Linked DNA regions of Homo sapiens: region 1 is linked to region 2. Evidence: fine-mapped expression QTL. A gene starts in region 2. The other region holds a variant in brackets. All regions are shown on one strand. Distances are between the middles of the regions.

Region 1 (5,384 bases), 39 kb before region 2:
GATGCCTGAAGTAACAATGTTTTGCAAATAGGTTCAGCTCTCTGGTTTTAGGGAATGAAGAGAGGGAGAACTGTAAAAGGGGAGTGTTAGACTTCATCCCCAAAGGCCAGGAACAATGTCAAAAAACTCTGGTATCTCTGCAGTTGATAGTTCCCTCTCACTTGACTAGATTTTAAAATAATTAAGTTCTCAATTTCCAACTTAGTACAATTGCAATCTCCAACAGCATTTCAGAAATAGGAAACCTGAAGCATATCTCTGCACACTTTTATTTGTAGTTTAGTAAACAGAAAGTCTGCAAATGAGAAAGAATAATGCCTAACTTCTTAAATAAGCAGAAGATGGGAATAATCCAGTCATTGTGCTTATACCTGCACTTCTCAGTTCTGCCGCAAGTATTCCAGTAAAAACTGGGTTGATCTGAGCTGAAGTGTTTCTTCCTTTTGGCCAGGTGCAAAAGTCTGGAGTCTACTTCAGAGGACGAATGTGTTTAGTCATTTTTATAAGAGTTGAAAAAAATAAGCACTAAATCTTTCTTTCAAACTTGAACTGATCCTCAAAACAGTTTTAGGAATTTCCAAAGGATCTTTTTGCTTTAGTTTCCAAACTGGTATTTTCACTTGTTTCCATCTTGTTTGCTAGATAACCTGAGTCTTAAATTTAAAAGAAAAATGCTTTGAGGATGATTTTATCAGCTCTCCATATGGAATATGAGAAAAAAAATCCATAATTATTCTGTATCCAGTTTACCTAAAATATTTTTCTAAGTTTTTGGTAGGCAGGTATTCTCCTTTCCACCGTAGAACTCAAGCAGTACAGACTATACCATGGCCTATTGCTAAGATTTACTGAGATCTCCACTTTTGGAAACCCCACAAGTGTAAATTGAGATTAATAAAAATTCCTTGGTATGAAAAATGCTAACAGTTGAATTTCACTCTCCCATCTACTCAGATATTACTTTATACTCCTGGATACCCCTCATAACTGCTCCTGATGCCCAGGCATCCAGGGTTAGGTGAGGAAGCATGACCTGGGTTTTCAACAAACTGCATGAGGCCACTCTGGCCACGAGCAGACTCTCTATCCTCAGGCCCCCAGTAATTTTGAGTTACTTCCTCTCAGCCATCTGACTTATATGTGAGGCACAACTGCACAAAAATAGCAATTCTTGACGCTTTTATAAACACATCTACAGAGAATGTTCCCATTATTGCCTTAATATAGCAATCTGAGATAATCAGGTCTGGAAACATAGCCACGTTTTATAGGTAAGGAAACCAAGCATAAGTGATCTAAAAACTAACAGGAGAGTGAAATTGAAACCAGAACCTTGGTTTTCTGACTGCCCGTTATGGATTCCCCCTCTGGTTTTCTAGGAAAGCCCTATAGTGAAGGCCATATTGCTCTCAATATTTCTTCTTCTTTTCAGTTGCCTTTCTTTATGCCCCTCATCCCTGTCTGTCTTTTCCTCATCCAATCTCCTTGTGACTCTCTGAAAGTCCCTGCCCTGTGACAGTCAGTTCAGACCTACCCTTTCTAGCCATTTTCTGATGCTCTCTGAGCTGCAGATTTTCCTGAGCTTCAGACACCTCTCGTTCTCTCAATGCCTTGCTAGACTGCTGCAAGTTCAATTTATAAGGAGCTGATGGGAGATAATAGTTTACTGCAGTGGTTCTCAATCAGGGCAGTTTTTCTCCCTGGGGGACATTTGGCAGTGTCTGGAGACATTTTATGCTACTGGCACATATTGGGTGGAAGCCAGAGATGCTGGCTGCCATCCTGCAATGCACAGGACAGCCCCCCAAATACTAAGTAGAAATACTTCGTGCCTAATGTCGATAGTGCCTCCAATGTCAAGGTTGAGAAACCTTGGCTTAGAACAATAATCCATCCTACAATGTTTATTACCAGCATTTCCCGAAAGGAGTAACCAATGCCAAGACTTTCTATCATCATGGTGGTTGAAGAAGATAGTAGGTTTCAAACTGGCATGTACGAAAGTGTGGGGTGGGCCCATTAGTCAGGTCACAGAGACAATAGCCTACTTTGAGTGTGTTAACTGATCATTCTTGACACAGTAAAGTCACGTAAACTGCTTTGTGGCAATATAACTAAGACTTGCTGTGAGAGGAAGGCAGAAAAGAGAACGTGAGCACAGAGTTCTTCTCAGAATCACTGAAGGTTTGGTATGAGTATGCCCCACAATGGGACTCCTGCTTCGAGACGTGAGCTCGGAGCAAATGTGTCCCAAGCAATAACATAAGATCATTATGTGTGGAAAACAGACTTAAGAATAAAATACACTAAATATTTTTGATGTAGTATCCCATGGTGGGTAACACATGTCAGAGATGTGAGTGCAAATGTGAGACGCCTGATCTGCTCTATCTAGTTCAATTGGAGTCGTGGACCTTCTAATTCCATTCCTTCTGTCAAAAACATTTTTACATTCATTCTGGGATGTGTGTCATGTAAATTTTTAACCAGTAGAGCAAATTTTCATTTTATCTCAAGGACAAAGAACAATTTGCTCTCAGCTACAAACTTCCTTCCTTCCATCTGTAACATCATCAATTCTGTTCTTGGTTCCTCCTCTTCAATCATGTGGGACCCACTCAAAGAACAAAGAAGTCCTTTGACCCTTTGTCCTCCCAACCACTTCCATGTTCATGACATATATTTGTGATATTTTGAGTGAGTTATAATCACTTAATTCTAACATGTTTTTTGAAAGAACATTTTCCTTAGACTTCTTACTTTCCAACTCCAATTCTCTCAACCTAAAGAAATCCTTTCTGTCCCACTTAGCTGAATCCAAGCACCCCTCTTCATTTACTTTCTGGTCCCTTGTTTTTCACTGGACACTTTTCTACACTCCACTTGGGCACTTTCCAGCTGCTGAGGCACTATATTTTTATCTTTTCTCTCTTACTGCTTTTTTATGTTAACAAGAACATTACGTGTACTTACATCACTTCTTTTCCTTCCTTTTAGTACTGCAGGACCAGAACTATATGAAGTTCTGAGGACATAATAGCAGTTACAATCTTGTTCATCTACTGAGATAAATGGGCCTGAGCTCTCCTAGCATTTCTTCTTTCCATAATCAATTGTGATTTTTTCCATAATCAATTGTGGTAAAGCTCTCTCTTTCTGTCTCTCTGTCTCTCTGTCTCTCGCTCTCTCTCTCTCTCTCTCTCTGTGTGTGTGTGTGTGTGTGTGTGTGTGTGTGTGT[GTC/C]TGTGTGTGTCTGTGTTTATGACTATCAGAGGAAGAGAGACAGCTGGAAATTATTTTCAAGTATTTAAAGGTGATAGAAGTTCTTTTTCTTAGATAACATGCTATCCGGACCAGTAGTTATATATGAAACATATAACTAGTGTAGTATATAAAACATAAAACAATTTCCCCTTGGTCTTTCATTCAAAGTCCAAAACTTAAAGATCACGCTGAGAAAAGAGGGGTTCGGTGCTATATTAGCTGTAACTTAGTCTTGGGGTCTCTTCCAATGGTTGGCCTTGTTTTCCTTTGGCAAGGAAAAATTTATTGTTATGCTTGGAAAATATTTTGCTGTTAGCAGAAGAATAGTCGATATTTCAAAGAAAGATAAAGGGAGTAGAGAGAACTATGTGACAGGACATTTTTCTTGATTGTTTTCAAAATGGAAGGTTGAGGGAGGGGTATTCAAGAAAAATAAAGTACAATTTTGACCTCCACAAAGCAGAAGCTACATCTATTTTACCTTCCCACAGATCCCAGTAAAATATTCTAGACCTGGTGAGTGTGAAATAAGTATTGTGACCTGTTTTGTCCTGAAAGTCTAATTAACATAATCAAATAAGAACTTCATGTGAAAGTATGCAAGTTGCCTTTGTAATAAATTACTATTTAGAGATTAGATGAGTCTACCTAGTAGAAATGTACACAGTGGCTTTAAACCTTTCAGAGTACTGCCCCTAGTGAACATTTGTTAAAAAGACAGCATGGCCTGAGCACTCTAAAGCACAAGCCAATGTCAGGGCCAGAGCCTGTGGGCTAGGCTAGTGGTGATGGTGGTGTTCTTCATGTGTGGCCAAGAACAGGAGAGGCAAGAGATCTACCAAGGAGCCTATAACAGAAGACCAGAGACCTGAACTACAGAAACCAAAACTGGGTGTGGAATAACTATTTAGCAGAAGTTTCTCTGATGCTGTACTAGATTTTTGTGGACTTAGCCAGGCCCAGACCTAAGCTATGGCAAATTCCAATGATGACCCAGGTCCTCTAGTTTGGAAGCCAGGGACTAAGATAAGTGACTGAGAGGCACTGAGCAAGAAGCTGACCTAACATCTGGTGGTAAAAAACCAACCAACCAACCTGACGGTCAGATCCTACCCAGCTGGGTTGGATGGCTACTTAGAAATTTTCTACCTTCCACACATCATCTTATTCTTCTAAGTAGCAATTTCTCATTTCCTTTGAACTTTTATGATTATCCTGCCTACAAATCAAAATTGTTGTGGGAAAAGAGAGGGCCAGAGTGTGGGATCTGTGCCATGTGAGGGCAAAGCTAGGCCTGGTCCAGGAACTGGCAGGCTCAACACCACACTTTGCCACAGCTAGGATGAAGGTCTGCTGAATCACAGCTTACAGGGGATGAGGAGTCTGGGGGGTTTGCCACCTCAGTGAATACTGACATCTTGTTTCAGCATCCAAAGGTAGTCCACCATCCGCCACCTTGAATTCAGAGTATGGGATCAAATTTCTTCAAAAATATGTAAAGATAGAAATGTATTTTAGATGCCATCTCTTTTTGCAGCCCTCTTACTCTTTTTTTGCAGCTGTATTATTATCGTTATTAATGTAGATGTTTTTTGAATATCGACTGTGTCTTTCTTTAATCCTAAAAATAACCTTTGATGTAGATTTAATTACCCTGAAACTGCTGCTGAGAGAGCATGAGTAACAATCCTATGATTAGTAAACTAGTACATGGCAGCACTATTAGATGAGTCTACCTAGTAGACTCATTATTATTTAAGTATATATTGAACTTAGTTTTGTCTGACGCTATAGACCCAAGTCTTTTCCCGATGCTCAATTTGCTTTCTGTTCTTCTTTTTGGCAGTTTTTTTTTCAAGACATGCTTAATACTGTCTGCTCTTTAGGAAGATGATTAGTGAAGTTGATGAATTCACCTGACCAATGGTAATACTCCATCTTGTATCAAGTAAAATGGGCATCTGTCAGCATGGCTTTTTAGAGATAGAGTCAGACCTAAGGAAGTCACTGGACTTTTCCAATCAGCTATAAAGTAAGGCTAAAACTATGGCAAAATAGAAGATGTAGTAATTCTAGCCACATGGAACCATACAACTTCTCTTAAAATAAACCAACATTTGTTC
Region 2 (5,384 bases):
TTCTTATTTCCTTGACAATTGGGTTGCAATTATTATCCTCGCCTCCAAGATTTTTCTCTTATTTAAATTCTGATTATTACTAAATTATTACCCTTGCCAGTACCAGGGATGGTGAGATTGGCCAGGACCCTGGACCACCTGCTCATGCTGTGATTCCTTCCTTTATCCCCTACTGGACTAGCTTCATGAGGCTGTCCTTCCAGTCTCAGAACCTACAACAGTGCATGGTGTACAGTAATCATGCCATATATATTATATTTGTCAAATGAGTTAATAAATTAATTTAGAAATTGAACAGGCCAGGCACGGTGGCTCACGCCTGTAATCCCAGCACTTTGGGAGGCCGAGGCGGGCGGATCACGAGGTCAGGAGATCAAGACCATCCTGGCTAACACGGTGAAACCCCATCTCTACTAAAAATACAAAAGATTAGCCAGGTGTGGTGGCGGGCACCTGTAGTCCCAGCTACTTGGGAGGCTGAGGCAGGAGAATGGTGTGAACCCAGGAGGTGGAGTTTGCAGTGAGCTGAGATTGTGCCACTGCACTCCAGCCTGGGCGACAGGGCAAGACCCCGTCTCCAAAAAAAAAAAACAAAAAAAAAAAACAAAAGAAATTGAACAAATACTGTAAACCTTGGTCATGAGATCCTGACCCTTTGACTTCTCCATCAGAGCACAGAGAAGTCATTAGCTTTCAGGCTTTAGGAAATGCACTGCCAGTTCCTCTGCTCACTAAATTCAGTTCCCGTTCTGTGGGCCCTCTCTACCCCCGGTAGACAGGCAAACCTTGTGTCTGTCCCAAGTGTGGTTGGGACCCTGGGAATAGCTGGTGAGCAGCCAAGATCTGCGCTGTGCTCAGAGTGGACCACCAGTAACTGACACATCCCAGCCCTGCCAGAGTCACAGAGGGCAGCTAGAGAATTGCTCTCAGATCAAGGTTTTTGAACTGCCCAGGATTTTCAAGGTAGAAGAAATCAAAAAGTTTCTTTTCTCTCATCTAAAGAATCTATTAGGGTTAGAATTGCCAGATTAAGCCAAAAAAAAAAAAATTACAAGACACCCAGTTCAATTTGAATTACAAAGAAATAATTTTTTTTAGTAAAGTATATCTCAGCTGTTTCATGGTACATATTTATACTTTAAAAAGTCATTTTTTTTCTGGAATTCAAATTGAACTGGCATCCTTCATTTTTATCTGGCAGCCCTAATAAGATCCAATTGAGTTGGATCCAGAGTTCTATAATGTAAGGGCCTAAAGTGACCCTCATTTGTCAAATTGTCCTTTGATGGTAACACGGTAGAGAGTACACTCTTTAGAATCAAACTGATATAGTTTTAAGTTCCTACTCCACAGAACTGGCTACGTGACTTAGGATAAATTTCATAATCCTCTGTGGGTCTTATTCCATCTATAAAATGAATCAAACAAGACCTTCCTTTTAGAGTTATGGGGAAATTTTAGGAAGACAATATAAGTAGAGTGGTACAAAGTGTTCAAAAAGGGCAAATATATGCTAGACCTTCTGAGAGAAAAGAAAGCCATGCAAACAAATCTGTGGTTATGACACTTGTTCACCTGGACTCTGCACCTCCTTCCTCTGGGCCAACTGCTGAAGGGCCCTTGCCATACACCAGAGGGGCAATTATCATCTGCCCTCGCTGGGTAATTCTCTGCTTCCTTCAAACACCCCGACTGTTAACTTATTTCTGGTCTTAAAATTCTGTCTTAAGAAGCTTTCCTTGAATTCCTTTGACACCCCAACAGCAACCCCGAAGAATTTAAAAATCACACGTGACATCCATATTCCCCAATGATACATCCCCTTTTTTCTTGCAAGTTTCTTTTGCATTTTTACATAATTTTGAAGTTACACCTCTAGGCTTAGAAAGTGTTCATGTCTGAGTATGATGCATTATATGAAAGAAGCCTCCTCAGAAAGAGTTACATAACAGTTGCCAGGTTAATCCCTTGATCCTAATGGTGCTCAGGATTTGCACTAGGTAACCGGAACAGTCGACTAATCCCTATGCAGTTTCTGTCATAGATTTACCCTCCAATTCTCTCTGCAAAACCTTTAGGAAGGGTAGAACACCTCTGACCTTTTCCTGCATTGGAAGCCAGTCCTGTTGTCCATAAACATCACCAAAGGCTAACCTCATGCTGACCACACCTTTCTAGAAATTCTAAGGGCATCTGGAGCTGAGTAACCTTAAATGTATTATCAGACTTGATTTTAGCTGAAAGAAGTTTCATATTTTTTCCTCCAAAAGCATTAGGCAATTTATTCTTTTGTGAGCCAGAACATTTTCCTGTATTTAAAGCAATGTTAGCCCTTCCCCTTTTGAAGATTACAAACTGTTTTTCTGCAGAAATAAGTGGATGCAGCAAAGTAATATTTCAAGGCATACTTTTTTAGGGGACTGGGATTAGGGTCAACTTAACAAAGTTAAAGATTTGTATAAAGCAAAAAATCATCTTCTGTTTCTTTATACAGCAAAGCCCAGCTCTATATAGTGACAGAGGATGATCCTCTGAAAAGCAGTTTTAGGAGGTTCCTGAGACAGCTCTCTGATGCTGCTGTTATCACCTTACACTTCCAGTTCTCTTTTTCTCAGCAAAGCTATAGACAGGTAGACCAGTCCATTGTTGGTGGACAAAGAAAGAGGCAGGAAGGAGCTGGGAAGGGAAGTACTGCTGGGGTTGAGCCCATAAATATCACCCAGGGTCCTGCTGAGGCAGAGAAAATCAATAATTTGAAAAGCAAAGCAAGACCCAAACCAAAGCCATAAAAAAAAAATTACCAAAATTCCAGCCAGCACCCTGCTTCAGAATGGAACAAACACTTGACCTCAAAGGGAGAAGGCTCAGCCACCTGCCCTGCCCTGTGGTCATTCTCATGCTCTCAGCTCCCCTTCTCCTTTTCCTCACACTCACACCATCCTGGGCCAAGTTTGCAGGCACATCCTGGGAGTAAAGAACTGTTTTCTCTGTGGTTATTTAGTGCCACAGATTCCTCCTTCTTCAGAAAACTGTTTACTATGAAGCTGCAAACAGGGAGGTCACTATTGGGCTCCTTCTAAATGAATTCAGTAATCAAGTTTTGCAGTGACCTTGTAATAATCAAGTTTCACTTATTTGCTTGTCCCATGGCATAACAAGAAGGTCTGCATGTATCTCCTTCATGTTCTTTCCCATTTTCATCCCCAGCCACAGCCCAGGCCCACAGGTCCAACATGTTTTCTTCTGCAATTTTTCTTTTGGAACCTGATCAACCCCCCAAAGCCCTTCAATTATCCTGCTCAAATTCACCAGAAGTTCAGAAGTACTCACGGAGCTGAATGTTGTTCCTATCAGCTGCCCAGCTGCCTTCTTTGCAAAAGACAAAAGGATCTTTGCATCCTGACTTATCTCTCTGTAATACCCTCATGCTGCCTAATCTCACCGTCATAAGCTCAGAACAGCAACCCAGGTGCAAAGAAGTTAGGAGAACATGGGTTGATGCTGGGACAGGCTTAGGAGTTTTCCAATAATTAGAGGCCCTTTCAAAACTGACTTGGGTTCATTCCAGTCAATAAATAGGTATTGTATTCACAAAAACACAAAAAGTGTTGATATCCAAGGGTAAATTTCAGTTTGTGATTCAATATCTTCTGTCTTTTTTTTATTCTTACCTTTAGATTTCAATACCCCCATTTCTTCCCTTTCTCTGACAAACACACACCTATGTGCGCAATCACACACACACATATACACAGTGACATAATTCTTATGGGGCTCTAGATAACTGGAGAGAAGAGAGGGAGCCACAGTGCCTCCTGCTATACAGGGACATTGAACATGCGGGCAGTGACATTGGGAAACACACAGTATGTCTCCCTAACTGGTATTGTGCGAATTTCCTCAGAGAGATGGAACCTCAGAGTCAAAACTGATATCTGACACAGAAAGGGCCCAAATGACAGCTAGGAATTGTTAACTGAGGACACTTATTTGAGAATCGATTGCTGGATCTTCCGTACCTAAATGTTTCAGGGTGTAGGGTCTAGGGTACAATCCAATTTACTGAGACTCCTTGACTCAGTCTTCCTATTTTATTGATCCACTAGTATTAATTATTAATAGATTAATACTTTTTGTATTTTAAATAGATCTCAACCCATATGGTAGTTATCAGTAAGCTCTTTTGATAAATTTATCATAGAAAGATTAAGTGACCTATTCAAGACTGCAAATAAAATTAATAGTGGAGCCAGGAACAGGGCCCAAATCTGGAAGTACCTTGCATATTCAATTGTCTTTGTGCTGCACTACATCAAAGCAGACAGAGACCAAGATGTCTGTTTGCTGGTCACTTCCATGCCTTGCCAGTGAATTTCAATGTTCTTTCCCCAGTTGTTACCTATTAGAAAATTACACTCCATAACATTACAGAGAAAGAAGGTCAATTTATCCTTTCTAGACAGGGAGAGGTTCTTAACCTGCAGCCCTAAGCAGATTACATGAGCAACTAGACAGCTTGAGAGTCATTCATATGCTCTCCACTGGTCTTTACCAAAATTCCTCTGAGTTTTGAAAGCAATGATTACCTTGCAAAGCCAGGAAAGTGTTTGGTCTCTGGATGAGTCCCTCTGCTCCCTCCTCTGTATCTCCATTACCATTCACATCTTCCTTTACTATTACATACCAGGCACGTTAATGTTCAGATGCTTATCTGTCAAACTTTTACATATTCTCCATTTTCTTGATGAAAGAATACAAATTTTAAGGACAGTGGAAAGTGCCAAAAGCTGAGTGAATGTTCTAGAATGTTGTTACTCAAAGTGCAGCAGCAGCAACACCATCTGTGCACTTGTTAAAAATGCAGGATTTCAGCCCTGCTCCATACTTACCGAATCAGAATCTGCTTTTTAACAAGGTCCAAGGTGATGTGTTTGCATATTAATGTTTGAAAAGTACTGTTCTAGACCCATATGCAAGCTTGGGTTTACCACTTATCTGCTATATGTCACCTCTCTGAGTCTCAGTTTCCTCATATGTAAAATGAATGATTTAGAGTGTTGGGGTTCTCAATTTTTTTCCATCCCAGTACACTTGAGAAAGATAATCTTGCAATTCTCAGATTCTCAATTTTTGAATATGGGGGTGGTTGTGCCATAAGTCTTCTTCCTCCAAAGGAAATCCAGGAGAGAGAAGAGGGAGAGATTAGGAGTGTGGAGAAAGTCTAGGTGTATAGTTTGAAAAATTCTCCTAAAGCCACTCTAATATGGTTCTCAGGGGTTTAGAATTAGAAAATTCTTAAATTACTCTACAGTCTTAAAAATCTATGTTCCTTCTTGTTTTGGACCAAGTAAAGTAGACACATTTCCTCTCATGCCTCTTGCTAA

Alleles and levels. Alleles are on the strand shown, and positions count from the first base shown. SD is a standard deviation of normalised expression in the study named.
As copies of GTC replace C in region 1, the expression in whole blood of the gene that starts at base 3,375 in region 2 goes down (large effect, 0.92 SD a copy in TwinsUK).

Evidence for each region. PIP is the estimated chance that this variant, and not a neighbour inherited with it, causes the effect.
Region 1: its variant is the best candidate, but not a certain one, in a credible set for the expression of PDE6H in whole blood (TwinsUK, PIP 0.83).

What each region holds. Positions count from the first base shown.
Region 1 is chr12:15,009,931-15,015,314 of GRCh38, reverse strand. No RefSeq gene overlaps it. Among named protein-coding and RNA genes, the nearest start is that of LINC01489, 11 kb to the right of the region's middle. The variant GTC/C (reference allele first, on the strand shown) is at 3,239.
Region 2 is chr12:14,971,033-14,976,416 of GRCh38, reverse strand. PDE6H (phosphodiesterase 6H) reads right to left here and starts at 3,375. Exons shown (of 4, transcript NM_006205.3): 1 at 3,331-3,375.